7 separate regions of the Homo sapiens genome follow, and regions 1, 2, 3, 4, 5 and 6 are each reported to be linked to region 7. Evidence: microRNA targets listed by miRTarBase, many of them from high-throughput screens and not tested one by one. Region 7 holds a microRNA gene; each other region holds the end of a gene's coding sequence.

Region 1 (4,070 bases), not on the chromosome of region 7:
AGGGTTAGGATAATTTGTTATGTGGCAGTAGATAATTGGTAAAAGCTGCTGGTAACAGAGACAAAAAAAAAAAGCAATGGGCTTAAGCAGACTTACAGTTTATTTCTCTTTCTCATTGAAGTCTGGAGGTAGGCGACCCAAGGGATGACATGGAAACTTGCATGGTGTCATCAGAAGCCCAGGATCTTTTCCCTTGTTGCTCTGCTGTCTTCAGCATGTGGCTACAATTTTCTTTTTCTTTTCTTTTTTTGAGACGGAGTCTTGCTCTGTCGCCCAGGCTGGAGTGCAGTGGCGCAGTCTCGGCTCACTGCAAGCTCCGCCTCCCGGGTTCATGCCATTCTCCTGCCTCAGCCTCCCAAGTAGCTGGGACTACAGGCGCCTGCCACCTCGCCTGGCTAATTTTTTGTATTTTTAGTAGAGACAGGGTTTCACCGTGTTAGCCAGGATGGTCTCGATCTCCTGACCTCGAGATCCGCCCGCCTTGGCCTCCCAAAGTGCTGGGATTACAGACATGAGCCACCGCGCCCAGCCTGTGGCTACAATTTTCAAGGTCATTTCCTGCTCCAAGATGGCTGCTGGCGTTCCAGCTATCACATATGCATCCAAGGCTGAATGCAGGCTGAAGCAGAGAGGACAAAAATGGCCTTCATCAATACTGCTTCTATTCAAGGGGCATTCTTGGAGATCCCTTCCAGCACCTTCTGTTTATATCTAATATCCTAGAATTCAGCCACACAGTCATACCATATATGCCAGGGAGGCTGGAAATGTTGCCCTTTAGCTGGGCACATTGCCTTCTGCAGCAAAACTGGGGTTCTGTTATTGGGGAAGGGAGGAGAATGGACAGTGAGTGGCCAGTGGGCAGTTGTTGGCTATGGTGTTAGAGCAGAATGGTGGAAAAAGGGTCTTTCCCATGGCAAGGAGCTGAAACCAGCATGCTGGCCTCCCTACCTGCTGGAGCCTTTTTTTTTTTTTTTTTTTTTGACAGTCTCAGGTGGAGTGCAGTGGCGCAATTTCAGCTCACTGCATCCTCTGCCTCTCGGGTTCAAGCGATTCTCCTGCCTCAGCCTCCTGAGTAGCTGTCACAGGTGCCCGCCACCACACCCAGCTAATTTTTGTATTTTTTGTAAAGACGGGGGTGGGGGGTGTCTCACCATGTTGGCCAGGCTGATCTCAAACTCCTGACCTCAAATGATCTGTCTGCCCCGGCCTCCGAAAGTGCTGGAATTACAGGCATGAGCCACTGTGCCTGGCCACCCCCTGCAGCCTTGTTGAATGTTTGGGCACCACAGGGTTTTCCACCTAATTTGCTTCTGAACGAGGAACTGATTTCACACCCAAAGAAGAGAGGCTGTGGGTTAACGCACAGGGAGAACTCTGGTCTTTCACTCCACCCTCCCGACAGAGCCAGCAGGTCGCTGGACTTTTGCTAAATATCCTAAAATGCAGCCTTGACTGTATCACGTCCCTGCCCAACCCCCTTCCATGGTTCCAGATTGCCCAGTTTGCTCCAGTTTAAGGACAAATTCTAGGGTTTGGCATGGAAGCTGCAGCAAAGCCTTCCATGGCTTCTTGCTTCTATCTCCTTGTCACACCTCAGCTCATGCCCGACAACCAGGCCTTTGTCTGGGCAGCATCGGCTGTCCAAGACATTGCTTGCCATGTCTTTGCTTAGTGAAATCCACCCATTCTCAGCACACTTCCCGGGCCACCACTAGCCCTTAAGCCACCTTTGCGTGAAAAGGAAAACGGTCCCCTTTCTCCAAGTGGATGTAGCTCCATGCCAGAGTTTGGGGAGTGGCCTGTAGGCTGGATTCCATGCACGCTTGCCCCTTAGCCCACTGCCCTTGCACAGTGAACACCCTTTACTGCTGCACATGTGACAATGCCACGTCCAGGAATCTTTCAGAGCTCCATCAGGGAGTCAGGACCTTCCTTTTCCCTGATGTTTTCTCTGCCTTTGGATTCCATGCCAGCCTGCCCTGGTTTGGGGCTGCCCTTTCCAGCTTTGTGTCTTCTGACCTGCTTCATGCCCTTTCCCTCAGATTGATAATGTCAGTAGCCGCTGGGGGGGCACCGAATTCGAGTCACAGACCATAGCTCTTTCTCCCCACTTTGGGGACCGGCCACCACTCCCTTAGCCCTCGGCATGCCCAGCAGCAGAGTGGAATGTCCCACTGAGCTGGAACAAGGGCCACCTTGACAATGCCTTAGCAGTGACCCAGGCCCAGATACCGGAGTCAGGGGAGCCAGGTGCTCAGAGCGCCTCACACTTGAGTCTCAGAGGCCCCAGGCTAGGCAGGGGAGGTTTCCTCTCCTCTGCTTACTTGGTTCCTGGGAACACTGGAGCCCAATTCTGAGTCCCTTCCCAGAACCCCTCATCGTGCCCTGAACCATGGGGGCCCATAATGCTTGCAGTGGAGGCCTTAGACCCATGACCCAGGAATGCACAGGCCTTCCATTCCATACCTTTATTTAATCTGCATCTTCTCAGCCTCCTCCCTTCCCCGCCACCCCTTAGAGGGCGTGGAAGCCCTCGTTGAAAGGGAAGGAACTCCTCTCTCCTCCCTGGGGGAGGGTCAGTGTCCCCTGGGCCAAGACTCGTTGATGGGAGAAGCAAGGGCCTGCGTGGTGGAGCAAGGACATCATCCAAGAGGCTGTGGCCAAGGCCCAGCCCCTCGGATGCCCTCTAGGCCTGGGCCCCATGGATCATCAGGAAAGTGAAGAGTAGATAAGTCCGGGAGGGCAAGGAACGGGCGTCCCTGCGTGTGTGTGGCTGATGGAGGCAGACATGGACTTTGGGAGGCAGGAGCAGAGGCCAGGGGATGTGGGGACCAGGTGAGGCCCTGAGAAGGAACCCCAGGTTGTAGGGGTAGCTGCATGTGGGGGGAGTGACTGGCCCTGAGCAGCGGGAGAGAGGGCAGGCAAGGAGGAGGGGCCTATCAGGGGAGGATGGGAATGTTGGGTGAGTAGCAGGGCCAAGGCCATGGTGCCACCACAGCCAGCTCTTCAGCCCCAGGGAAGCCAACCTGGCTGGGCATGGCCCCAAGCCTCCAATTTGTGCTTCTGCGTCACTGGGGGGGCTCCCAGCATGGCCTCAGCCCCGGTAGGGAAGTGTCCACAGGCAGCCTCTGCTGCAGGCAACAGCTGGCCGCAGGACTCCTCCTCCATCCCAGCCTTTCTGGAAGCTTCTTCTCCTGCCCTTTGTGAGAGGCCTTCAGGCCAGATCATCGGCCATCTTGGGGGATGAAGCCATGCTGGGGGCGATTCTTAGGCTTCCACTTCCTCCAAAATGACCACAGGTAACTGCATTTTAGTCTGTTTAAGGACCCCCACCCCCACCCTCACCCCTGCCCCTTGTGTGTGGCTGGTCTGTTTTCCCGCCTGTTTTGGACAACAATCACTCGGGCATCTAAGCCCATGGTGGAATGGTGGGGAGGGGGCCACTCTGGGGGCCGTGGGGGGTCTCAGAGAGCACCCTGCCCATCCCCCTGGCAGCCGCTGTCTCCGTGGACAATGAGCACCGGGAAGTAGAGGGCGTCCTCATAGCAGGGCGGGCTCTCCAGGGGTTCCGTGTCCTCTCCACGGCGCCCCAGCGGCCCCCCGCTCAGGCTGCGGAAGACCCCTGGCGTGGCCCGGCCGCCAGCGCCCAGCGAGAGGCGGCTGCGGCTGAAGGGCAGGCGGGGCCCGCTGGGCCGGGCGGGGGGCAGCGAGTTGCTGCTGACAGAGCGGCGGCAGCGCTGGCAGCCTCTGAGGTAGGCGCCCGAGCCCGCGCCCATGACCACGGCCTCCGAGTAGCTGGGCACCAGCTGCCGGTTGGAGCAGATGTGCCACTCGAGCTCAGTGAAGTCCACTGTGGCCACGCGGGACAGCGGGGGCCCGCTGGGCACGGCCCCCGGCGGGGGCGAGCTGGCGCCAAAGAGCTTCTCCACCTGGTAGTGCACGTGAGCCGTGCCATAGGCGGCCACGACGCGCAGGGGCCACGACAGCGTGGCCGCCGACACGAGCCAGAAGACCCAGGCGCGCGCGTACCAGGGCGGGCTGCGGGGGTCGGCGAAGACCATGAGCGA
Region 2 (4,076 bases), not on the chromosome of region 7:
ACTGCAACCTCCACCTCCGGGTTTAAGTGATTCTCCTGCCTCAGCTTCCCAAGTAGCTGGGATTACAGGTGCCCACCACCATGCCTAGCTAATTTTTGAATTTTTAGTGGAGATGGGGTTTCACCATGTTGGCCAGGCTGATCTTGAACTTCTGACCTCAAATGATCAGTCCACCTCAGACTCCCAAAGTGCTGGGATTACAGGCATGAGCCACTGTGCCTGGCCAAATCAAGTACTTCTGATGAAAAGTTAGCATCCAAATGGAGATATGTGTAAGCAGAAAATACACACCAGATGTCAAAGATAGAGGAACAAAAAAAAAAAAATACAAAATATCTCACTCATGATTCGTTACATTGATTACACACTGATGGAACATTTGTGATAAATTGGGCTAAAATGCATTATTAAAATTAATTTCACTTGTGTCTCTTTCCTTTTTTTAATGGGGCTATAAGAAAATTTAAAATTACATACATGGGGAAAAAAGCTAAAGTTGCCATTTTTTCCCTTTACCTTCATTTATCTGTTTGTCTAATAGTCACTGAAGAACATATCTTTTTAAAGAAGTACGTGTGTGACTTACATTATACTTCTATCTGCAGTGCTGGTTCAGAACACCATGACATTTGACCAAAGGACTCAGCAGAGGGAAGGCTGCCCAGGCCCCAAGCTCACCATGAAGGATACAGCCACACCCTTGGTTCATTCTCGCACGAATTTCAGACCTCCCACCTATGTTGAAGACTCTGGCTACTGGCCACATGCTCACCGACACCGTTCCACGGCAAAAGCCCAGCACATCTCAGGGGTTTCCTGGGAGGCCGGATGAATGTGTGAGGCCTCCTGGGAGCAGCCCTCAGCAGGCAAGGGCTTTGGCCTGTTGGGGTCCACAACTAAGTGTCCACAGTAGACCAGCCCTGCTCAGGCTTGGATTCTCTCAACATTAGGCAAAGGGTCTCCCCATACCCATTTGACAGATGCAAAAACTGAGGCTCAGGAAGCTCAAGTTTGGGAATTCTTTGAATTTTATGTTTCCTGAGCATCTATTTGAATGTAAGTTGGACTTTCTCATACTAGAAGCAGGGATTAGTAACACAGTTTCCAGTTATACAACTTCTCACTGTTCCCCAAGGTGGTCGATCCAGACATCTGCCTTACAAAACCGCCTCCTGGGACCACCTTCCCATGGACAGCTGGATACCACCTGCTTGACTTGTCCCACTGACCCCCACACCCACATGGACCATGCCGATATCCTACCCACACCGACCCCTCTCAGTCACAGCGTGAGTCCCCGGGGCTCATGCCTGCTTGCTCTAAACCCCCCAGTTAGAACCTCCAGGGGAAACCTGCATAGATGACACCCTGGGCCCCAGTGAAGGCTTTGGCTCATAGCTCCCTCTCTCTCTCGTTCTCCACCTTCTGGTTGAGCCCATGTGTCCTGAATGGCTCCCCCTTTTTGCTGGCCCTGTGAAGCGTGCTGCCCTCTGTTCTCTGGATCTGTAAGCAATAAACTGCTTCTGTCATTTCTTGGGTTCTGATGAGTTGCCTCCTCTACCCCATCCTAACTTCTTTCCCGGTCAGGGCTCTCCGGGAGAGTGGCTGTCTCAGTAGGAATAAACTGGACACAGGTCAGATGAGAGCCACAAGGTCATGTGCCAGGATAAACAAGCTTCCTGCGAGAGGGACACCTGGCCACAGGTTGGACACTCAGGAATCAGGCCGTCTGTGAGGTCAAAGAAGGATCCCATGAAAGGCACATGGGAAACACCCACGACCACATCCCCAGGATCCCCGTCAGGGCAGGGCTAGAGTTTACAGCCACTCTCTCCTGAGAAGGACGTCAAGACAAAATTAGGAAAAAAACTACAACATCAAGTCACTTGCCCAAAGTCACATGTACGCACCCCGTAGGTGCAGGTGCAGAGTTTCTCACCGGCTCTCCCCTTTACGCCACCACCAGAAACACAGGAGATATTTCTGAGGTAGCCTCAGGCCCTGGGACCCAAAAATGCCAGTGCTTGGAAATCCACTGCTTAGGAGACAACAGCTGGGTGACAACTCTAGCCCACCGTTCTCTGCTATCTTTTTAAAAAAGCTGCAAATTCAAAAATTCAAAAAATTAGTTTATTAGCTTAATATAATTAGGTCAATGGAATCCTGTTTTGATCTCAATACTTCCCATATTGCAATATATAAATGTGACAAATTCAGCTGTTTTGTGGCATAGATAAGTGTCTAAGCTGGGCAGTTAGTCTACCCGTTTATAGTTCATGTTCTTCATGGCTTTGCAGCATTTGTCACTTTCTATGATGTGTTCAAAGACCAGAAAAGGCCACACTTGACCTGTCAGCTGGTCCTTGAACAGCTGTAGGTTTTTTTTTTTTTTTGAGACAGAGTCTCCCTCTGTTGTCCAGGCTGGAGTGCAGTAGCGCAACCTCGACTCACTGCAACCTCTGCCTCCAGGTTCAAGTGATTCTCCTCCTCAGACTCCTGAGTAGCTGGGATTACAGGCACATGCCACCATGCCCGGCTGATTTTTATATTTTTAGTAGAGATGGGGTTTCACCATGTTGGCCAGGCTGGTCTTGAACTCCTGACCTCAAGTGATCCACCCACCTCGGCCTCCCAAAGTGCTGGGATTACAGGCGTGAGCCACCGCACCCGGCCTGTAGGTTTTAACTAATAATTAGGGTATTACTCTATCATTCTCTATCATTCAAATTCTCCAGGTACTGACCTGGTTTTTATTTTATTTATTTATTTATTTACTTATTTATTTTTGAGACAGGGTCTCACTCTGCTGCCCAGGCTAGAGTACAGTAGTGGCACAATCTTGGCTCACTGCAGTCTCCACCTCCTGGGTTCTATTGATTCTTGTGCCTCAGCCTCCCAAGTAGCTGGGACTACAGGCGTGCACCACCACACCAGGCTAATTTTTGTATTTTTTGTAGAGATGGGGTCTCACCATGTTGGCCAGGCTGGTCTCAAACTCCTGACCTCAGGTGATCCACCCACTTTGGCCTCCCAAAGTGCTGGAATTACAGGCATGAGGCACTACACCTGGTCAGACCTTGTTTTTAAATTATGATTCGATGTACATGTCAAAAATTAAATTATTTCATGCATTACGTCCTACTGAATTTGTGTTTCAAATGAAATAATCAATTTTAGGATTCCTACACTTATTTTATAAAAGTGAAAATTAAATCAAATGATCTAACTATTTCCAAGCAAATTTTGGGATGAAAGCTATTCTAGGAAGGCTTGCCCTTGATTCTTGCTACATGTACTTGTTCAGCCACTCAATTAAATTCCTTCTGGCCTCGTCAATGTAGGGCTTGTCTGCAGGTGAGCAATCTTCTCTCTTCCGATGCACGAACCCATGAGTCTGCCCAGAAAATGTTTTAATTTGATATTCAACTTTGCAGTGTTCTTTCAACTTCTGAGTCAGCAAAGATACCTGGTGTGCAAAAGATTTCATGATTTTAACCCTTTAGTGATACTTTCCATTCTCCAAATCTTTAGTGAGCGTTCATAACAGAAATTTAACATCAATGCTTTAAATCAGAAACAAGTTCCACAGTTACACTGAATTCTTTCCCACTAATTTTTTTCTTTTTAGACAGGGTCTCACTCTGTTGCCCAGGTTGGAGTTCAGTGGCGCCATCTCAGCTCACTGCAACCTCTGCCTCCCACATTCAAGTGATTCTCCTGCCTCAGCCTCCGGAGAAGCCGGGATGACAGGCACCCGCCACCATGCCCAGCTAATTTTTGTATTTTTAGTAGAGACAGGGTTTCACCATGTTGACCAGGCTAGTCTCAAACTCCTGACCTCAAGTGATCTGCCTGCCTCTGCCTCCCAATGTGTTGGGATTACAGGCGTGAGCCACGGCGCCCGGCCTCTACTGCTAATTTTATAACTAACACAGTCCTTATGTCTGGCAAAGGAGAGATTTCAGGGAAATGGAAAAATGATACATCTATTATTTGAAATCACTTGCATTAATATATTAGTTACTAATATTATAACAATAATTTCTAAATGACTGCTTTTTTTTCTTAAGAGTCAG
Region 3 (4,065 bases), not on the chromosome of region 7:
AGGATAAAATGCATTCTTTTTTAATTAGCTTGAAAGAGAAAATTGATAGATAACAAGCAAAAACTCTTAGGGCTGTTCTTCAAAAGTCCATGTGGTAAGCAGAAAGGGACAAGAATGACTTAAAAATAGGAGCAGAAATCCATGATGGACTAGGGGAAGAATGGGTAAAGGAGAACTTCAATAACCCAGATATGTTCAAATCCACAGGTCCCAATGGCTGGCATCCTAGAGTACTTAATGAATTGGCCGAAGTCATCACAGAGCCGCTAGATATCATTTTTGAGACCTCGTGGAGGACTGATGAGGTGCCTGAAGACTGGAAAAGGGCATATTTAGAACCTTCTTTCAAAAAGGGAAATGGATGATGACCCTGGAAATACTCATCAGCTTAACTTTTTGCTTGGACAAATTCTGGAATAATCAACTTAGTAAACTGGGTAACTGGCTTATAACAGCTAGAAATAAGGCAGTGAACTATCACGCATAAAGAAGTATTGAGTTCATTTTTTTAAGAAGATATCATGATGAGATACAGTCTTATGCATTTCTTGGCATTCTCCCTTCCATTCTTAATGAAAACAGATGAGGTTGGCTAAGGCATTTGAGTCATAACTTAGTTTAAGTACAATATAACAAAAAGGTAGATTTCTGACAGTAAGTAGTAATTATATTATTTCCAAATTTGCTTTTAACTTGAGAACAGTAGCTTTAATTTTTATATTCAAGCATACATTCTACTTCATTTCATATAGGACCATGTTTTTATAAGATAAGATACATAATTCTATGTAGAATAGTTTGGTGAAGGAATTCTTATTTTAAGGTGCTTTTATATAGTTATTTTGTATATTGGTACAATGTTAAAGGTGATGAATTAAGGAACATCACCAAGAGAGGACAATTTCTTCTAACTTCTCTTTTTAAATTTAATCTGGCTGAGGTTTAGTATTAGGACTAATACAAGTGTCTTGCTCTGACATGCATCAAGCAAGAGCTAGCTATTTTACTTCATAGCTAGTTTCTTGCACTCTGTGGAGACTGCCAGGGCCGCAGCTCACAGCCTGTTCTGAGCTGCAGTGCTTTATCCCACCTTGCTCTCCAGGCTTCTGACTTCAGGCCTGTGGGGGCCGGGAGGTGGGCAGCGGCAGTGGCCTGAGGAGCCCTGTAGAACTACGGCTGAAAAAGAAAGTAGATTGAGGTGGGGGGAGGAAATTAACAGGAATCTAGAGTTTTTCTAATTCTTATCGTCTTATCGTTCTTGTGTTTGGATGCTGGTAGTTTTTTTTTTTTTAGACAGAGTCTCGCTCTGTCACCCAGGCTGGAGTGTAGTGGCACAATCTTGGCTCACAGTGACTTTCGCCTCCCAGGTTCAAGGAATTCTCCTGCCTCGGCCTCTTGGTAGCTGGGATTACAGGCACGCATCACCACACCCAGCTAATTTTTTTGTATTTTTAGTAGAGATGGGGTTTTACCATGTTGGCCAGGCTGTTCTTGAACTCCTGGCCTCAAATGATCCACTCGCCGTGGCCTCCAGTAGCGCTGGGATTACAGGCGTGAGCCATCACACCCGGCCTGGATGCTGGTAGTTTTATTTTCTGCTTAGAAAACGCAACCATGTTGATGGGACCAAAAACTTAGTTGAAAGAAGCCATGGCAAAAGATGTTGACGTACAACTGGCTCCTGAGGCTGTCAATTGTTTAGAGCTCCCAAGTAGTACTGCATTACGGAATCTACTACTTAGAAGAATGTACAAGATGTAAGTTCCCATCGGCACCGTCATGGTAAGAAGAATAAGAAACTCTCAAAGGAAAAGAAACTTACATTCACTTTTTCCTGGTCCATTTTGGTTCCTAAGAATAGATAGGCCATTAAGAAGGATATTAGGTTTCTAAGGACAATTTTAACACAATACTGCTTTAAAAATCTGAAGTTTAAATAGTTTAGCTATTTCTGTAGGTTAATTCAGGCACTGACTAAAATCAGTCTCATTATCATATACAAATGTAAGGAAGTTAAATTTTAAAAGCATGTATAGGTTGTCCTTAAATTATACAAAAGCTTTTAGTTTCATCAGGATTATATTCCAGTTAACCTTTCATCTTTTTTTTTTTTCCAAATGAACTAGGGTCTTTAAAATTCCTAAGTAGATTCTTTTGAGTGGTAGGGGAGTCTGTATAGATTACAGATATAATTTATTGTGATAACAAATGGCTTCCTGTTTGACCTCATTTCCAGGTGTCGCATCCGTGGCTGATTTATTTCACAGATGTACATTTGCATGTACTTGTTGAACTTTGCTAGGAAGGACTCAATTTTTGAAAAATCTGTTATTTTCACTGTGGGCCTTATGAGGCAATCTACTGCAATGGAAAAAGGGTTCCTTGGTCATTTCAAGTTTTATTTTCTATTAGAGTAATATCTAACTTCAATTATTTTGCCAGGTTTAAACCTTCTCTCTGTGTCTGTGGTTAGAATTTGAAAATAACAATGCTCTGCTTAAAGTAAGAGTCACAGTCAGCAAAAAAAGCCAATGGATTTTAAAAAGACATCTTAGTTAAAGCTAGAGGAAGAAAACTTCAAATAAGCAAAGAAGTATTGAAGGATGCCCACGAATTCCTTTGCATTAAAATCAAGATGAGGTAAGAGGTAGAATATAAGAGAAAGGGATTATTTTTACCATGAATTGTATCTGGGGACAGTTAGTCTTAGAAGGAGTAATTTTTTCAGCGTTTTTCCTCTGTATCTAAACACCAATAATATACTTAATTTTTGAATATAAAAGAAGTAGCAATTGACTAAGAATAAATATGTTATAAAAACTAGGGGATTATCTTGATTTACATTTCCTAGAGTATTAAAAGAGATTAATTACAGACTTTCACTTGATAATATTGAGGAGTCTGGAGGGTCATAGCAAAATTTTCTTTAGTTCATCTTAAAATTTAGGGAGGTAAAAAAAGATTTTATTCACATAAAAGATTTCTTGGCATAGGGAAGGCGTAATGTTAAGGGCTTCTTCCTTACCCAAGTGGGAGCTGAACCAGTAATTGTGGGGAAAACTGAATTTATAGCAACAAAGGATAGTAGTTTCTCAACTGGGAGCATACGAGCAATTTCTCAGTTCAGAGATATTTATAGCATCTTGGTGTTATGCAATAAACAATGACAACAACAAGCATTGAGCTTTCACTTTGGAGTTACTCAGATCTGAGTTTAAATTCTAAAATTATTCTAGTAGTATTTTCCTGCGGTGAATCTGTTAAGGATGTAAGCTATAGTGTAGCTTGGGGAATCATCTTGAACAGTTATGAAACTCATTAAAGCTTCTTTTCCCTTGTCTGTAAAATGGGAAAAATAAATACCTCTATAGCTCTTAAGAGGCTTAAGAGTTCTATGGCTTACACCCACATACAGTCCTTGGCTCAGTGCTAGGCATGTAGCAGGTGCTGACTGCCTCTCTCCCTTCCCTTCTTTACTCTCAGTTGTCTTATTTCTTCTTATGCAGAAGAGATTACCTTAAAGCTGACTAGAAAACTCAGACATAAATTGACATTTCCTTATCATTGCCTGAAACCCACTGAATAAGTCCCCTTTGATTTCTCTCAGGAAGGATAAAAAAGGCTACAGTACCTGCTCATAGGAGTTCAGTAAATGTTTATTGATTGAATGAAAAGAATTTGATTTAAGGAAACAATAACACTCCATCCTGGGCAACAGAGCAAGATCCCGTCTCAAAACAAAACAAAACAAAACAAAACAGCAAATTCATAAAGGCCAGCAGTTTTCAAGTCTGGGGAAATAGGCACATGGACAGATTATATGAAGGTATTTCATTAGCTTTCTTCTCTTTATGGCAGCTTCAGATTGATGAATTTGAGGTACAAATGAGTGAGTGACATATGTATATTTTCCTCTGATTTTATGACTGATTTACAAATTAGGAGTGCAAATGGGCTGTTCCCCGATAGCATCTTCTGGGAAGAATCCAACCAAGATACAAAGCAGATGATGGTGGATCGGCAAACTCTTTTCTATGAAAAGAAAAACCAGATATACCAGGGACT
Region 4 (4,076 bases), not on the chromosome of region 7:
GGAGGCCACGACTGGCAGATCACCTGAGGTCTAGAGTTCAAGACCAGCCTGGCCAACAAGGTAAAACCTTGTCTCTACTAAACATATAAAAAATTAGCTGGGCATGGTGGCAGGTGCCTGTAATCCCAGCTGCTTGGGAGGCTAAGGCAGAAGAATCGCTGGAACCCAGGAGGTGGAGGTTGCAGTGAGCTGAGATTGCACCACTGCACTCCAGCCTAGGCGACAGAGCAAGCCTCCATCTCAAAAAATAAATAAATAAATAAATAAATAAATAAATAATAATAATAATAATAATAAATCCCTGAAGAATCCTAACTCCTCAACATAAATTAACCTGGACATCTGAGGTGCCTGCCATTATAAGAAGAAACACAACAGATCCATTAAGTGGGACAGGTCTGGGAAACAGTAAAATGAGTCTCACATCCTCTATCCACCAGAGCAAAAAAAGTGAAGAAAACTTCATGTAACTTTGTCTGATGCTGTTTGCTATACTGTGTATAAAAAGGCAGACCCCTATCCAGTACTTTGTTTCCACCCTTTTTAAAGGTACTCAGATCCTTTCTAGTTCTCTAGGCATTGGTTCTCTATCTGTACGTAAAACTACAACTGCCTGTCCTGGCATCTCCAGACACTGACAAGCAAATATGTCCAGGCTGTCATGATTTTTCTGAGACAACTGATATTGTGTACTTGAAAACTGCAATGTGTCCCAAGTTCAACATAGCCTTCCTCCATCTAAGTAGTGGCCAAATATTCATAATACACCTCTAATTTCCTTCCATCCTCCTCCCCAATTCAAAACCAGTGTGTATTCTCAAGCTACATTTCAGGGGCAACGCACAGTAAGTAGATCTCATTCCCCAAATAAACAATCACTACAGAGGTGTAATATGGGAGGTATATGAAAAAACATATTTTATTCCCTCTGGGCCCAAATGAATCATACTTTCTGGTCACAACTTTTAGAGGCAGGCTATTATTTCAGCAGGCCACTCTCTCACTTTTTCTGTTCCCTCTCTGACTCCTTCATCCTTTACCAAAGTACAGAGAAACGTTATCTCTAGCCCCCTTCCGTCACCCACAAATCAGCGTATGATAGTCAACAAAAACTGAGGAAAGACTTCTAGCCAAGAAAAAGACCCATTAAAGAGTGGTGTTTTTGTTCTGATCATTCTAAACTGATCATTCTGATCATTGTTGTGTGACAATACAAATGGTGCCCCTCTGTACCTTTTTTTGGTACACCAACAGTTGTTCTATGTCCCCATCATTTCCTTTTGAGACCTTGAAGTTTCAACAACATTCTTGACCTTCTTAATTTATCCAATGTTAAACACTTGAATGCTACAAAGAGCATGTGCATGGGACACTACTAGGCTGAAAAAATAAGGCCTACCTCTTCCAGGCCAAGCTGTTTTGGACATGATCACACTGATCAGTTTGAGTCCAAGTATAGCCAGAACCAAGGAGAAAAGGAAAGTTTCAGAGATGAAAAATAGGCTTAAAAATTAAAATGTGACAATGTAAAATCTTAACTCCTGAAGACCAATGAATTACCAAAAACAGTGAACTGGCTGCAGACACTTACTGTCTCTATTTCTGTGAGGCAAATTATTTTAAGATTACTAGGAAAAAAGACAGTAAACAATGAGTTGAGCACTTTGAGAGGTTGAGGCAGGCAGATCACTTGAGCCCAGGAGTTTGAGACCAGCCTGGGCAACACGGCAAAACCCTATCTCTACAAAAATACAAAAATTACCCAGGCATGGTGGCACACGCCTGTAGTCCCAGCCACTTGGTAGGCTGAGGTGGGAGGATCACTTGAGCCTGGGAGGTCGAGGCTGTGGTGAGCTGAGATCGTGCCACTGCACTCCAGCCTAGGCGACAGAAACAAACAAAAAAAGCAGTGAGTTGGGGATTTTTTTTTTTTTTTTGAGATGGAGTTTCGCTCTTGTTGCCCAGACTGGAGTGCATTGGTATGATCCGGCTCACCGCAACCTCCACCTCCTGGGTTCAAGCGATTCTCCCACCTCAGCCTCATGAGTAGCTGGGATTACAGGCATGCACCACCACGCCCAGCTAATTTTATATTTTTAGTAGAGACAAGGTTTTACCTTGTTGGCCAGGCTGGTCTTGATCTCTTGACCTTGTGATCCGCCTGCCTCGGCCTCCCAAAGTGCTGGGATTACAGGCGTGAGCCACCGCGCCCAGCGGTAATCATTTTTTAAAATCTCAGAAGCAAAGGTCTCAAACATCTGTCTTTCTGTGCCTGTATGCTGCCCAACTCATTCCCAAAAAGGAATGGGAATCAGATTCCTATCAACATAAGGCTCCCAATATATGTTATGTAGGTTTCTTGGGAAACTGCATCAACTGAAGTAGTCTTTAAAAATTAAAATAAGAGGCCAGGCGCAGTGGCTCACGCCTGTAATCCCAGCACTTTGGGAGGCTGAGGCAGGCGGAGCACAAGGTCAGGAGATTGAGACCATCCTGGCTAACACGGTGAAACCCCATCTCTACTAAATATACAAAAAATTAGCTGGGCATGGTAACAAATGCCTGTGGTCCCAGCTACTCCGGAGGCTGAGGTAGGAGAATCGCTTGAACTCAGGAGGCAGAGTTTGCAATGAGCCAAGATCGTGCCACTGCACTTCAGCCTAGGCGACAGAGCGAGACTCCATCTCAAAAAAAAAAAACAAAAAAAATTAAAATAAGAAAACCAAAGCACACAATGATAAACCACTTTTCTCTTCTTGCTGTAATTTTTCTTTGATTTGCTCTCTGGGGATCAAGACAAAACAAAATCATTAGTCTTAGATACCTGAATTTGACCTCGCCTCATAGCTAATGTGATCAAGAGTAGTTTTTTTTTTTTTTAAATACAATTAAGACAAAAGGACTTTATATCAGCAGGACTTTAGGGCTGTGGTTCCACTGTTTTTATAGTAAAATACACTAATGGTGGGGTAGAGGTTGGAGAAGGAGGTGGAAACATCCGTTACAAGGCAACATGACAGACAGCAGGACCCTAACTAGACTTTAAGGAATTAATTCTATTCAGACGGGGGGAGCCCTACATAATTAAGTTTCACACTTATAAAATTATCACTCTGAATTCAGGGATAAGAGGCATTTGGTTGTAGATACAATTCCATCTGTAGATACTAACTTTAAATTTAAAGAAGAAAAACATTCATTGCATTTATATTATGTGTTGAGTTTCTTACATATTCCTAAATCCATCTACTAATTTTTTGTTTTGATACAATTTACAGCTATGGTAAGATGATTACCACAGCCCTGATTCAGGTGTGGTCTTTAGCTTCAGAAAGTCCATCGGTCATGTAGCTGACTGTCATTGCTAAATCTGTTGCTTGCAGAGGCCTCAGTGCTCTGGCTTTGCCGAGTAGAGTCCTCACCATTTAAGCTCTTCCTACATACAGGACATGTGTCATGCTGAAACAGAAAAATATTAGTCTATGTGAAGATCCTGGCCTGAGAAGCTGGGAGTATTGTACACTTAAATAACCCTGAGAATTGTCACATCAAAAATTATGACATGGAACAGAAAAACAATAGAGAATGCATCCTCATAGAGCATGCACTGGCTCTAAGGTGTGATACCAGGATATCTCCCAAACAGAACTTTAAGCAGAACTGACAGGAATAATTCTAGGCCAGCAAGTTAATAACAGCTAATACATACCACCAAACAGAACGAACCAGAAACAGTGAGTGATCTATGACAGGAGGGTAACTGCCCATTACTTCCCAATATGGTCTAGAGCAGAGGTCAGCAAACTTTTTGTTTAAAGGGACAGGAAAATTGGCCGAGTGCAGTGGCTCACACCTGTGATCCCAATACTTTGGGAGGCCGAGGCAGGTGGATCACCTGAGGTCAGGAGTTTGAGATCAGCATGGCGAAACCCTGTCTCTACTAAAAACACAAAAATTGGCTGGGCATGGTGGTGCACGCCTGTAATCCTAGCTACTCTGGAGACTGAGACACAAGAATCACTTGAAACCAGGAGGTAGAGGTTTCAGTGAGCTGAGATCACGCCACTGCACTCCAG
Region 5 (4,000 bases), not on the chromosome of region 7:
AGTCTCTGGGGGCAGAGGGAGGGAGTGTCTCCCCATACTGGGCTGGCCCACTGATAAGGATCCTTCCCCTCTCTGTCTCCTAACAGATTCAGATTAATGATCGCTCATTCCTAATTGTCAAATTTCTTTTCCTTCATCCTGTGTCTAATCACCAGTGACAGAAACCATTACGCAAATGAGAGCAGACGACTTCCCCCAACTGTTCACGTTGGTAAAAACCTTGTAATTTAGAGCTCTGATTTGTAGGGGAAGCTGGTCTCCCCCAGGCATCCTGGGCATCTGCTCAACTGATGCCCAGAACAGCCCCTCCTCCAACCCCAGAACTCCAACCCCCAACAAATATTTGACTTTACAAAACACTAGTTTTCTCTGTACCTGCTGGTGTGAATAGATGAGCCTGCAGCGTAGCTGACCTCTATACAGGCCCAAACCCCCACCTTCACTTGCTGTATGTGTGTGTCCCACACTGCCAGCTAGGATGGAGGTAAACAACTACAGCAGAAATGTTTCCTCTGTGGCAAGCAGAATTTGAGCCTAAACATCCCTCAAAAGGTAATCGAAGGGGAAAAACCTCATCTTTTCCTTGGGGGGAAGCAGCAGCTGAATATGAACCAAGACCCTTAGTGCCATCTAGAACTACAGCTTCAGTTCTATAGATGCAAAAGCATGCCGGGAGGAGTTATGGGTCCTATTCAAGGACACATAAGTAATGCAATTAGACACAGAACTCAGTTCCCCCCACAGCTTCTTCTAGCACTAATTCATAATATGGCTTCCCAGGCAGTTTTTCCAAGACTTTGTTAGCAGGAGCCCAGAAGAACTTTCACCCTGAGCTGTATATTCTGCACCATCTTGGGCTGGGTCTGCCTTCAGATACTGCCCAGTGGGGTGATATCTTGAGGACAGAACCTGTGGTACAAGGAGGGAGGTAAGGAAGGAAAATCAACATAGTTTGGTGGAAAGGAAGGAGCAAGGGGTTTGCAGCCTAACAGTGCTAAGTTACAACTGATTGTCACTAATCACCTAATCTCTCTGAGCCCATTTATTCATCTGTAAGTGAGAATACCTACCTTGCAGGATAGTGAGGAACAAAGAGAAAAGCACTAGGCACATATTAGGTGTCTAAAAATCAGGAATCACTCTTGTGTTACCCAAGGATCAAGGCCAATCCTGTGAAGGTTCCAAGATTAGCCTTCTCCCTCCCACCCCTCAGCCACCTTAGTGAGACCTGTGTCAGCAAATAACTCAGCAAGGACCAGCTGAGTGCATGCCTCCTTGACACATCACCCACATCTTTGAGCGCTGAGCGAGGAATACAGCAGACCTGCTGAGGAGAACGAAAATAATCTACTATCTTTCCAAGTGTGACTGTGGCCAAGTTTTTCCTCCGCTCCTGTGCTCCTCTTTCCCAAAAGAAGTGGAGAGATAGAGATCACTGCAATCACATTTCCCAGCATTGACTATATTTGAAAGAGCTACACTTGAGAAGGTACCATATCTTCACATCCACACTGCATCAGAGAACCCCAGAATGGGGTACTAAAAATAAACACCCCTCCCCAAAAAACGCACTCAGGCATGCACACACATCCACACGCATCCTCTCAGTTCATCAGTGCACTATAACTGAGCTTCAGGGGTGAGAGCCAGAGCTCAGATGCTGGAAGTAAACCTTTGGCAAAAAAAAAAAAAAAGAAAAGAAAACCAGAGACCTTCCAACTCCTCTTCCCTTCCAGAGAGAAGGTGATGAAGACAGGAGCAGAGGTGAGGAGACACAGGGCCACCACACTGCCCAATCCCAGGGACCCCACTCCCACTGAATAGATGTGAATGATGGCCCTTCAAGTTGTGCAATCACAGCTGCCCACCTGTAAGCTGCAGCCCTGAGAGGGGTTCCCAGGAGTAGCTCCTAACAGAAAAGGAAATTCGACTTCCATGCTCCACCAGTTGCCCTGACTATTGAGGGTGTTGTGGCACATTACAACGGGGTCTGGCAGAGGAGCTGGCTTTAAGACGCAAGCCTATGTGTTTGCCCGTGCCCTGAGGTGGATCACAGGTAGTGAATGAGCTGCCTGGGCTTGACCCCATTTCATCTATTCAGCCAGGAAGCTCAGCAGGAATAAAGGATATGGCCTGGGCAGGGAGCATCATAGGGCCTGGAGGCTCTAGCCAGTTAGCCTCGGGCAGGCTGCAGTGAGACCTGGCCAACATATGATGGCTAAAATCCAAGTGTAAAAGCTTAGGATAGGTCAGGCAGTACTTCCCGGGGGCTCACACTGTACTGTCCCACTGGAAAAGGTAAGCAGTGGAGAACCTTGGTAAGTAGGGAGGCTGGCCAGTGTGGACACACACACACACACACACGGACACACACACACACACGCACGCACACACACACACACACCCAGAGGCTTGCACCCCTAGTGTGGATACGCACACACAGACACACACAAACAAACACACAGAGGCTTGCACCCCTAGAACCTAGAGAAGCCACAGCTAGGAGAACTCCCTTGGTACCCAGCATAGGGGCAAGAGCTGGTGCTGAAAGAGAGAAACTATATGTGTCTCTAATTTAGAACTTATGCACAATCATTGGTTCTTATGTCCCAAGGTCCTTTTATGTATGGCTTGAGCTTGTAGGCCCAGTTGGAACCCTATCTAATCCTCTCTCACAGGAAGGCTATATAGGCTCTCAAAGGCAAGCCTCCCCTCTCTTTCACCCCATTAGAGTCCCGGTAGCCATTCCCATACCGCCTAGAGCTTGACTACGCAAAAACTGTCAGGAGGCAGACTGACCTAATGGTCAGACTAGCTCTGGCCCTGCAGCCCAGATGCAGTGGGGAGTCCAAGAGCATCTCATCTCTCTCTCAGGCTGAGGCACTGAGGTTGCAGGAGATAGGGCTGAGAGCCGGAAGTGACAGCCTGACCCAGAAGGAACAGGGAACAGATACATACATGCGTGTGCATGCACACACACGCACACATTCCGAAGTTGACAGACTAACATACACACAGACATGATGACAACCAAAAGCTGGGACTCCACACACTGAATGCAGGACTTTAGGCGGGGGGCAGAGAGAGAAGGTGCTGGGGCACAAGAGGCAAGGGTATGAAGTCCCTCCAAATAGGAGTGGAGTGCCAACTGCCCTGCCTCGCTCCAAACACCTGACTCCTGGGCCATGGCAAGAGTCCAGTCCATTAAGTGCAGCGTGCAATACTAGCGCTTGGAGTCTCCTGTCCTCATCAATGAAGCGGTGTGGACGGGATAGCAGTCACCTGGCAGGAGGCCTTGACCCCTGGCAGGCTAGTTGTATCGGCCCTTGATCATTGTGTTCAACAAGGGCCCCACCTGTAAAGAAACATGAGGAGCCAATCAGAACTGGCTGTTCCCTGGCCCTGGAATTGGACAGGGTGTGTCTGGAGACATCAGATGTCCAGCCAAGGACAGAGACAATGTTTTCATACAATCTTGTGAATCCTCTAATCACCTATCTTCCTGAAGGTCAACCCAGTATTCTGGGACATAGTCTTTCCCTCAGGGGTCCATCTTGTACTATTATTCTTCTCTCGCACAACACCGTCTCTTACCGTAATCTGCCCCAAACGGACAGACATGGTCAGAGAAGCTAATAATCCCCGAACACCCAAGAGTGTCTATATGTTTCTCCAGAATGTTAACTGCCTCCATATCCTCAAAAAATGATCATCTGCAACTGGGGCTGATGCTATCTCCCAACACCACAGGTGTCTGTGGATGCTGAGGTTACCTCCAAGAGGCAAGCAAGAACCCTACAAATACAAACCTCCCCCATTTACCCAATGGGCCACTGGCACACCTGCATGGGAAGCAGGTCTCTCAACATTACCTACAGCAGCCCTGGCACAGCTGGGAAAGTGCAAGGAGATGTGTTAGTGCTCGCTTCCTGTTCCAGAAGAATCCCCTCAGGGGGTCCCCAGATGGTACATAATACCCATGGGGAACATTACTACTAGC
Region 6 (4,076 bases), not on the chromosome of region 7:
GCTTTTCAAGATGGCATTTTGTGGCGAGGGCATACTGTTTGGAAGTTCAAGTTCATCATGAATGGCTCATATTGTCACAGAGCATTAGTGATCGGCTCTCCAGCTTTGCTCCTGTGTATTGACACTGCGGGGAGCCTATACCTCCCCTCCCTGTTAAAACCATTAAGGCAGCTTTCAGAGAGGAAAACATCTGGGCTTCCAAAATGCATTAAGAATTTGCATCTGCAGGAGCTCGGATTCCACGTTGCCAGCCTGAGAGTCTCTCTCTGGCCCAGGGAGCTGGTCTTGGAGGAGGGCTGGCGGGATCTGCATTAGCAAGAGCTGCTCTGAGTCTCCCCTGGTTTTCTTTTTCACAGCCAACGATGGGGATTACTGGCGCCTCCTGAACCCTGGAGAGTATGTGGTCACAGCAAAGGCCGAAGGTTTCACTGCATCCACCAAGAACTGTATGGTTGGCTATGACATGGGGGCCACAAGGTGTGACTTCACACTTAGCAAAACCAACATGGCCAGGATCCGAGAGATCATGGAGAAGTTTGGGAAGCAGCCCGTCAGCCTGCCAGCCAGGCGGCTGAAGCTGCGGGGGCAGAAGAGACGACAGCGTGGGTGACCCTCCTGGGCCCTTGAGACTCGTCTGGGACCCATGCAAATTAAACCAACCTGGTAGTAGCTCCATAGTGGACTCACTCACTGTTGTTTCCTCTGTAATTCAAGAAGTGCCTGGAAGAGAGGGTGCATTGTGAGGCAGGTCCCAAAAGGGAAGGCTGGAGGCTGAGGCTGTTTTCTTTTCTTTGTTCCCATTTATCCAAATAACTTGGACAGAGCAGCAGAGAAAAGCTGATGGGAGTGAGAGAACTCAGCAAGCCAACCTGGGAATCAGAGAGAGAAGGAGAAGGAGGGGAGCCTGTCCGTTCAGAGCCTCTGGCTGCATAGAAAAGGATTCTGGTGCTTCCCCTGTTTGCGTGGCAGCAAGGGTTCCACGTGCATTTGCAATTTGCACAGCTAAAATTGCAGCATTTCCCCAGCTGGGCTGTCCCAAATGTTACCATTTGAGATGCTCCCAGGCGTCCTAAGAGAATCCACCCTCTCTGGCCCTGGGACATTGCAAGCTGCTACAAATAAATTCTGTGTTCTTTTGACAATAGCGTCATTGCCAAGTGCACATCAGTGAGCCTCTTGAATCTGTTTAGTCTCCTTTTTCAACAAAGGAGTGTGTTCAGAAAAGGAGAGAGAGGCTGAGATCATTCAGGAGTTTGTTGGGCAGCAAGCATGGAGCTTCTTGCACAAATTCTGGGTCCATAAACAACCCCCAAAGTCCCTGCTGATCCAGTAGCCCTGGAGGTTCCCCAGGTAGGGAGAGCCAGAGGTGCCAGCCTTCCTGAAGGGCCAGAAAATTTAGCCTGGATCTCCTCTTTTACCTGCTAGGACTGGAAAGAGCCAGAAGTGGGGTGGCCTGAAGCCCTCTCTCTGCTTGAGGTATTGCCCCTGTGTGGAATTGAGTGCTCATGGGTTGGCCTCATATCAGCCTGGGAGTTATTTTTGATATGTAGAATGCCAGATCTTCCAGATTAGGCTAAATGTAATGAAAACCTCTTAGGATTATCTGTGGAGCATCAGTTTGGGAAGAATTATTGAATTATCTTGCAAGAAAAAAGTATGTCTCACTTTTTGTTAATGTTGCTGCCTCATTGACCTGGGAAAAATGAAAAAAAAAAATAAAGCAAATGGTAAGACCCTTCTGGTGTGTGTGACTTTTCTGGGTAGGCTTGCAGCCACCCCACTACCTCTTTCTGAGGTTGGTCAGCCTAGACAAGGTGCCTGCTTAGGGGTGGCCATCCTGCACCCCCACTAAGCTCAGCACTGATGCTGACAGCACTATGTTCTCTGCCTCTTTCCCAGGAGAGACACTTGTTTGGGACCCACTATTGGCTCTTGGAGATGCCAGTAAGCATCTTTAGAGAAAAGATTCTCATACAGCTTTTGCACAATCTATACTCAGGGTCAGCTAACTTTTCTTTAAAAGGGTCAGTAAATAGCTTAGGCTTTGCAAGCCATACAGTCTCTGTCATAACCACTCAGCTCTGCTATTGTAGCACAAAAGCAGACATACACAGTACAGAAATGAATGGGCCAGCACTTTGGGAGGCCGAGGTAGGCAGATTGCCTGAGGTCAGGAGTTTGAGACCAGCCTGGATAACATGATGAAACCCTGTCTCTACTAAATATACAAAAATTAGTTGGGCATGGTGGTACATGCCTGTAGTCCCAGCTACTCAGGTGGCTGAGGCAGGAGAATCGTTTCAACCCGGGAGGCATAGGTTGCAGTGAGCCAAGATTGCACCATTGCACCCCAGCCTGGATGACAGAGCAAGACTCTGTCAAAAAAAAAAAAAAAAAAAAAAAAGAAAAGAAAAGAAATGAATGGCCATGGCTGCATTCCAGTACATCTTTATTTACAAAAACAGGTGGCAGCTGGATTTGGCCTGCAAGCTAAGACATAGTCAGCTCCTGCTATAAGCCAGTGTTGGCCAATAGAACTTTCCGTGATGATGGAAATGTCCTATTGTGTGCTATCGAATGCCACAGTGCTGGCCACGTGTGGCTATTGAGTACTTTAAAGGTGGTCAGTGAAACTTAAAAACTGGGTTTCTTCTATTATAGAATGTTCATTTTAATTAAACTTTTAATAGACACTTGTGGCTAAAGGCTACATATTGGACCACACAGCTCTCAACTAAGCCCATGGTAGGAAAATCTGAGCCTCACAGCAGTAGATATGGAGGCAGTGCTATAAAGCATTTAAAACTATAAACCACCTTTGCAGTTCAGAAGGGGGAGTTGCAGGGGTGAAAGAGACGATGGTGCAAGTGACCCTTCTGGGCCCTTGAGACATGTCCTGGACCCACAATTTAAACCCGAGCAATCCCACATTTGCTTGGAAGATTGTGGATTTGTCCAGTCCCTGCCATGCTGACCCAGAAGCCAGGTCCTGGCCCTTGGTGCCGAGATGGCCCGGTCTTATTTCCAGTAGTCAGCTCTGGAACTTGCAGGGCTACTGCACACAGCCTACTGCATCCATGCCATTCTCAACCCTCCCTGCAGCCTTGTCACCAAACTGAGCCCGTTTGCAGGCACCTTGGGCTCGCAGGCAGGGGCTCTGCATTCAGGACTGGCCAGGGCTGTTTGGTGTGTGATCTCAGGTCAGGCATCCTCTCTAATCTCTCATCTACTCCTGCAAAGTAAAGCCCTCAGGCTTCATAGACTGTAAAGGTCAGGCTGGCTGTGGCGTCCGAAGATTTCTGGCAGAGAGCCGACATCCTGGATTCCTAAAGCTCTGTTCTGTTGGAGTCACTTCTCTCCTCAGCCCTTCCGTGACACAGCGACTCCTCACTGGACCTTCAAGCCCACATAACCTTCCTTAACCCGGAGCCCGGAACCTCCCTCCTACTTGCCTTCTCTCCTGCTTTTCAGCCGGAATTACCCTCCTAGATCTTTCCCTAGGTTCAGCTTGGGCCTCTGCATATATTATCTCTCCTCACAGCTGAAAACCCTCCTGCTTCTCTCCAGTCCTGTCTCAAATGCCACCTCCTCCAGGAAGCCTTCCCCCTCTCAGGACCATGGTGATTTCTCACTCCTTTGAACAAATCTGCAGAGCCCTCAGGGCCTCTCAGAGGAGTTGTGTTACTTCAGGTTCTCTCTGCTGTTGGTCTGGAAGCTCCCAAGGGCAGGACCTGCATCCTCCTCGGTTCCCACTCCTCCTGCGGGGCTGCTCCCCACTGCAGCAGTTGCACCATGAACACGTGTGAAGCCGAGCCAGCCTCTGCCATGTGCTGCCCTGTTTGTAGGATTCCCTTAACACGTTCAGAAAATGTGACTTGAGAAATTGAAAATCTATACTTTGAATGTATTTGGTGTCTTTTTACCTCTTGAAGAGTCTTCATTTTTATAAGTGAAACCTGGTACTTGACTGAGTTAGAAACATGTCCAGAGATTGACAGGCTGTTTGAGATGTTTTTCTGCAGGATAAAATCAACCAACGTGGTGCGTCTGCTTCTGGCGGAGTCTAGTGCCTGTTT
Region 7 (4,076 bases):
AGCCTATGGGTCACTCCAGGCACAGGTGGGGTGAGTCAAGATCTCACTGGAGGAGTCACTGAGCAAGAGGGCCGGTGGGAGGCAAGGGGGCATCCAGGGACAAGGGGCCAGCTCTGCCCCCACTTCCCCACCCCACCCACTCTAATACTGCAGCCCCTGTGCTTCCAACTGCCCCCTCCAGCCTGGGGCCCAGCCCCTCACCGCCAGAGACTGCCCGCCTCCTCTTGGGCAAGCTCCTGGTGGGCTCCACTGAAGCCAAAGTGGGCCCTTGGGGGCAGGAGAGCCAGAGCAAGGCACGCTCCACCTAGATTTAGACCGGGAGAGACCTGGAGGATGCCAACCCCAGAGGTCCTGGGGCGAGCTCAGTGCTGGGGACCGGAGGTGCCGTCTGCTGCCAGAATCATGGTGTGCGTGGTCCCTGCCCAGCACGGGTCAGCCAGAGCGAGCCAGGGCAGAAATGACGGCCAGGTCGATGTTCCTGTCGGGGGCTGCTTGTCCCAGGAGGTAATCTGAGTCCTGGCCGAGCCCAAAAAAGCCACTGCCCTTTAGAGCCAGCTGTGAGGGTGCAGGAGGCAGTGCAGAGGGAGTGGGACCCACAGCTGCTAGCCTCCCTCCAAACCCTCCTGCCTCCACCAGACACCAGGTCAGGGGGCCACAAGTGTGGGTGCCGGGCAGCTGCCCCTCAGCTGAGCTGCCGGGCCACCCAGCTCGTGTCCCTCCCCTGCCAGGCTGCAGCTGGGATGGTCACCCGGGCAGCCTGAGTCAGCCTGCTTTCTCTCTCAGGTGAGGCGGAACCAACCCTCCTGGCCATGGGAGGGGCCGTGGTGGACGAGGGCCCCACAGGCGTCAAGGCCCCTGACGGCGGCTGGGGCTGGGCCGTGCTCTTCGGCTGTTTCGTCATCACTGGCTTCTCCTACGCCTTCCCCAAGGCCGTCAGTGTCTTCTTCAAGGAGCTCATACAGGAGTTTGGGATCGGCTACAGCGACACAGCCTGGATCTCCTCCATCCTGCTGGCCATGCTCTACGGGACAGGTGAGGGTGGCCTCACACCGGGCCCCCTGTCCGGGGCTCTGCTGGCGGATCCTGCTGGGCGCGTGTAGCTGGGCTCAGCAACAGGGCCTTCCGCCTGCTCCCCAGGGAACCCTGGAGGGAAGCCCTTGGGGCCAGGATCCTGCTGGGCAGCAACATGCTCTCCACGGGGCCAACCCAGGCAGGGCGCGAAGTCCATCCTGGCCCCTGTCCAAACGGGTCGGCTGTATTTATAGACCGTCTCAGAGGACAGGCTCCTGAGAGCCGTTCCTGAAAAGGTGGCTGTTCCTGAGCTGCAGGGACCCAAGGGGCCCAGCAGGCGGCGCTCACGTGTCATCATGGCCTGCGCTCGGGGAGCCTGCCCACGGGGTGCCCCTGGTGCCCCGCGGGGGGAGGGGTGGTGTGGGAAGGGGAGGCCGGCTCCAGGCTGTGAGCTCAGTCGGCTGGCGGGGGTAGAGCTGGCTGCAGGCCCGGCCCCTCTCAGCTGCTGCCCTCTCCAGGTCCGCTCTGCAGTGTGTGCGTGAACCGCTTTGGCTGCCGGCCCGTCATGCTTGTGGGGGGTCTCTTTGCGTCGCTGGGCATGGTGGCTGCGTCCTTTTGCCGGAGCATCATCCAGGTCTACCTCACCACTGGGGTCATCACGGGTGAGTGGGGCCGGCCGGTGGGCCGCACGTGCCAGGAGGGGCAGGGGCCGTGCACTTCTGCTCCTGGGTCCAGGCCTCTGGAGGACAGCAGGGCGGGTGGCTGCGGGGTGTCCCGGCCCCACCTCGTTGTCCCCCTCTCGAGTGGGTGGGTGGCAGGGGCTCTGCACCCTGGGAGCCTGAGCCTGTGGGAACCTGGGGGCAGAGATGAGGGTCTCGGGCTTTGGGGCAGCCTTGGGGGGCTCTCACCACATTCCCTTTCCTCCAGGGTTGGGTTTGGCACTCAACTTCCAGCCCTCGCTCATCATGCTGAACCGCTACTTCAGCAAGCGGCGCCCCATGGCCAACGGGCTGGCGGCAGCAGGTAGCCCTGTCTTCCTGTGTGCCCTGAGCCCGCTGGGGCAGCTGCTGCAGGACCGCTACGGCTGGCGGGGCGGCTTCCTCATCCTGGGCGGCCTGCTGCTCAACTGCTGCGTGTGTGCCGCACTCATGAGGCCCCTGGTGGTCACGGCCCAGCCGGGCTCGGGGCCGCCGCGACCCTCCCGGCGCCTGCTAGACCTGAGCGTCTTCCGGGACCGCGGCTTTGTGCTTTACGCCGTGGCCGCCTCGGTCATGGTGCTGGGGCTCTTCGTCCCGCCCGTGTTCGTGGTGAGCTACGCCAAGGACCTGGGCGTGCCCGACACCAAGGCCGCCTTCCTGCTCACCATCCTGGGCTTCATTGACATCTTCGCGCGGCCGGCCGCGGGCTTCGTGGCGGGGCTTGGGAAGGTGCGGCCCTACTCCGTCTACCTCTTCAGCTTCTCCATGTTCTTCAACGGCCTCGCGGACCTGGCGGGTTCTACGGCGGGCGACTACGGCGGCCTCGTGGTCTTCTGCATCTTCTTTGGCATCTCCTACGGCATGGTGGGGGCCCTGCAGTTCGAGGTGCTCATGGCCATCGTGGGCACCCACAAGTTCTCCAGTGCCATTGGCCTGGTGCTGCTGATGGAGGCGGTGGCCGTGCTCGTCGGGCCCCCTTCGGGAGGTGAGCGCTGCGCCCCCAGGCAGTTCCCCACACCTGCCCTTCCCGTCAGACGCCCGCTTTGCGAGGGGGGGGACGCGCACCCCTCGGCAGCCACCCGCAGTGTGGGACTCAGAGCTGGAGGGGGTGCACTGTGCTGGACCAACCCTGATTCTGCTGGGGCTAGCGGGTCTCCATTAGGAGTGGGGTGCTCCGTCCGGCACAGTGTGTCCAGACAGGCAGGGTGGCTAGGGGCTGGGCCCGGGGGGGGGCAGCTCCTCCAGGCTCTGCCTGGGCACCACGCGGCAGCTCCAGGCAACCCAACAGCCGGCTTTTGCATTTTGGGGCCTCTCCTTTTTGAAGGATGACTGAGCTAACACGTGAGGGAAATTAAGTTCTGACTGGAGCAGCCTTGCCCAGGCTCCGCCTGCCTGGCGAGGGGGTCCTGGGCTTGGGGAGGGCTCATGTCTTGGAGTCCGCGGTGGCCAGGGCACAGGGCTGGTACTGAACACAGTAGGGCTTCTGGGGCTGCCGACTGGAAGCCTCAGGGGGACTCCGTGGGGACCAGCGTGACTCCTGCCACCAACCGAAACCCAAACTCCACAAAGCCATTGCTATTTTTAGCCTCTTAAGTCTTGGTTCCCCTGAGGAGGAGGGAGGATGCCCCCAGCTGAAACACATGGAGGGGAGAGAACACCTCCCAGCCCCACAAGCTCAGAGGCAGACAGGGTGACCCTTGCGTGCTGAGACACCGAGACACAGGCTTGGGTGGAGCCGTGGGCCCTGGGGGCAGCCCGCATGAGCGGCTGGGACTGACGGGGTCTTCCCGCAGGCAAACTCCTGGATGCGACCCACGTCTACATGTACGTGTTCATCCTGGCGGGGGCCGAGGTGCTCACCTCCTCCCTGATTTTGCTGCTGGGCAACTTCTTCTGCATTAGGAAGAAGCCCAAAGAGCCACAGCCTGAGGTGGCGGCCGCGGAGGAGGAGAAGCTCCACAAGCCTCCTGCAGACTCGGGGGTGGACTTGCGGGAGGTGGAGCATTTCCTGAAGGCTGAGCCTGAGAAAAACGGGGAGGTGGTTCACACCCCGGAAACAAGTGTCTGAGTGGCTGGGCGGGGCCGGCAGGCACAGGGAGGAGGTACAGAAGCCGGCAACGCTTGCTATTTATTTTACAAACTGGACTGGCTCAGGCAGGGCCACGGCTGGGCTCCAGCTGCCGGCCCAGCGGATCGTCGCCCGATCAGTGTTTTGAGGGGGAAGGTGGCGGGGTGGGAACCGTGTCATTCCAGAGTGGATCTGCGGTGAAGCCAAGCCGCAAGGTTACAAGGCATCCTCACCAGGGGCCCCGCCTGCTGCTCCCAGGTGGCCTGCGGCCACTGCTATGCTCAAGGACCTGGAAACCC

Evidence for each region. The annotated mature microRNA hsa-miR-6787-3p reads UCUCAGCUGCUGCCCUCUCCAG and lies in region 7 at 1,508-1,529, shown strand. An mRNA with a match to its seed (bases 2 to 7 or 8) in the 3' UTR can be bound and repressed. Matches are read on the target gene's strand: a 7mer-m8 pairs with bases 2 to 8, a 7mer-A1 pairs with bases 2 to 7 and ends in A, and an 8mer does both.
Region 1: miRTarBase lists TMEM151A as a target of hsa-miR-6787-3p. Seed matches in the 3' UTR shown: 7mer-A1 at 2,489-2,495.
Region 2: the mRNA of CMBL is a reported target of hsa-miR-6787-3p. The part of its 3' UTR that is shown has no 7-base or 8-base seed match.
Region 3: the mRNA of SAMD5 is a reported target of hsa-miR-6787-3p. The part of its 3' UTR that is shown has no 7-base or 8-base seed match.
Region 4: miRTarBase lists RNF115 as a target of hsa-miR-6787-3p. The part of its 3' UTR that is shown has no 7-base or 8-base seed match.
Region 5: the mRNA of HIF1AN is a reported target of hsa-miR-6787-3p. The part of its 3' UTR that is shown has no 7-base or 8-base seed match.
Region 6: the mRNA of CPXM2 is a reported target of hsa-miR-6787-3p. Seed matches in the 3' UTR shown: 7mer-A1 at 1,235-1,241.

Annotation. Positions count from the first base shown.
Region 1 is chr11:66,295,051-66,299,120 of GRCh38, reverse strand. TMEM151A (transmembrane protein 151A) reads right to left here. Exons shown (of 2, transcript NM_153266.4): 2 at 2,457-4,070. The coding sequence ends at 3,468. Among named protein-coding and RNA genes, the nearest start is that of TMEM151A, 5.2 kb to the right of the region's middle.
Region 2 is chr5:10,277,167-10,281,242 of GRCh38, forward strand. It overlaps CMBL (carboxymethylenebutenolidase homolog), which reads right to left. Exons shown (of 6, transcript NM_138809.4): 6 at 429-3,466. The coding sequence ends at 3,287. Among named protein-coding and RNA genes, the nearest start is that of CMBL, 29 kb to the right of the region's middle.
Region 3 is chr6:147,564,187-147,568,251 of GRCh38, forward strand. SAMD5 (sterile alpha motif domain containing 5) reads left to right here. Exons shown (of 2, transcript NM_001030060.3): 2 at 208-4,065. The coding sequence ends at 270. Among named protein-coding and RNA genes, the nearest start is that of SAMD5, 58 kb to the left of the region's middle.
Region 4 is chr1:145,743,539-145,747,614 of GRCh38, forward strand. It overlaps RNF115 (ring finger protein 115), which reads right to left. Exons shown (of 9, transcript NM_014455.4): 9 at 1-3,459. The coding sequence ends at 3,328. Among named protein-coding and RNA genes, the nearest start is that of CD160, 26 kb to the left of the region's middle.
Region 5 is chr10:100,547,448-100,551,447 of GRCh38, reverse strand. It overlaps HIF1AN (hypoxia inducible factor 1 subunit alpha inhibitor), which reads right to left. Exons shown (of 8, transcript NM_017902.3): 8 at 1-3,355. The coding sequence ends at 3,311. Among named protein-coding and RNA genes, the nearest start is that of HIF1AN, 14 kb to the right of the region's middle.
Region 6 is chr10:123,743,298-123,747,373 of GRCh38, reverse strand. CPXM2 (carboxypeptidase X, M14 family member 2) reads left to right here. Exons shown (of 14, transcript NM_198148.3): 14 at 357-1,735. The coding sequence ends at 610. Among named protein-coding and RNA genes, the nearest start is that of CPXM2-AS1, 31 kb to the left of the region's middle. RefSeq lists an enhancer at 1-241.
Region 7 is chr17:82,235,200-82,239,275 of GRCh38, forward strand. It overlaps MIR6787 (microRNA 6787), which reads left to right and starts at 1,469; the gene lies at 1,469-1,529. It overlaps SLC16A3 (solute carrier family 16 member 3), which reads left to right. Exons shown (of 5, transcript NM_004207.4): 2 at 784-1,032; 3 at 1,530-1,673; 4 at 1,939-2,694; 5 at 3,503-4,076. The coding sequence starts at 810. The coding sequence ends at 3,777. It also overlaps a transcript of CSNK1D not described here. RefSeq lists enhancers at 1,046-1,235, 2,060-2,831, 3,602-4,076.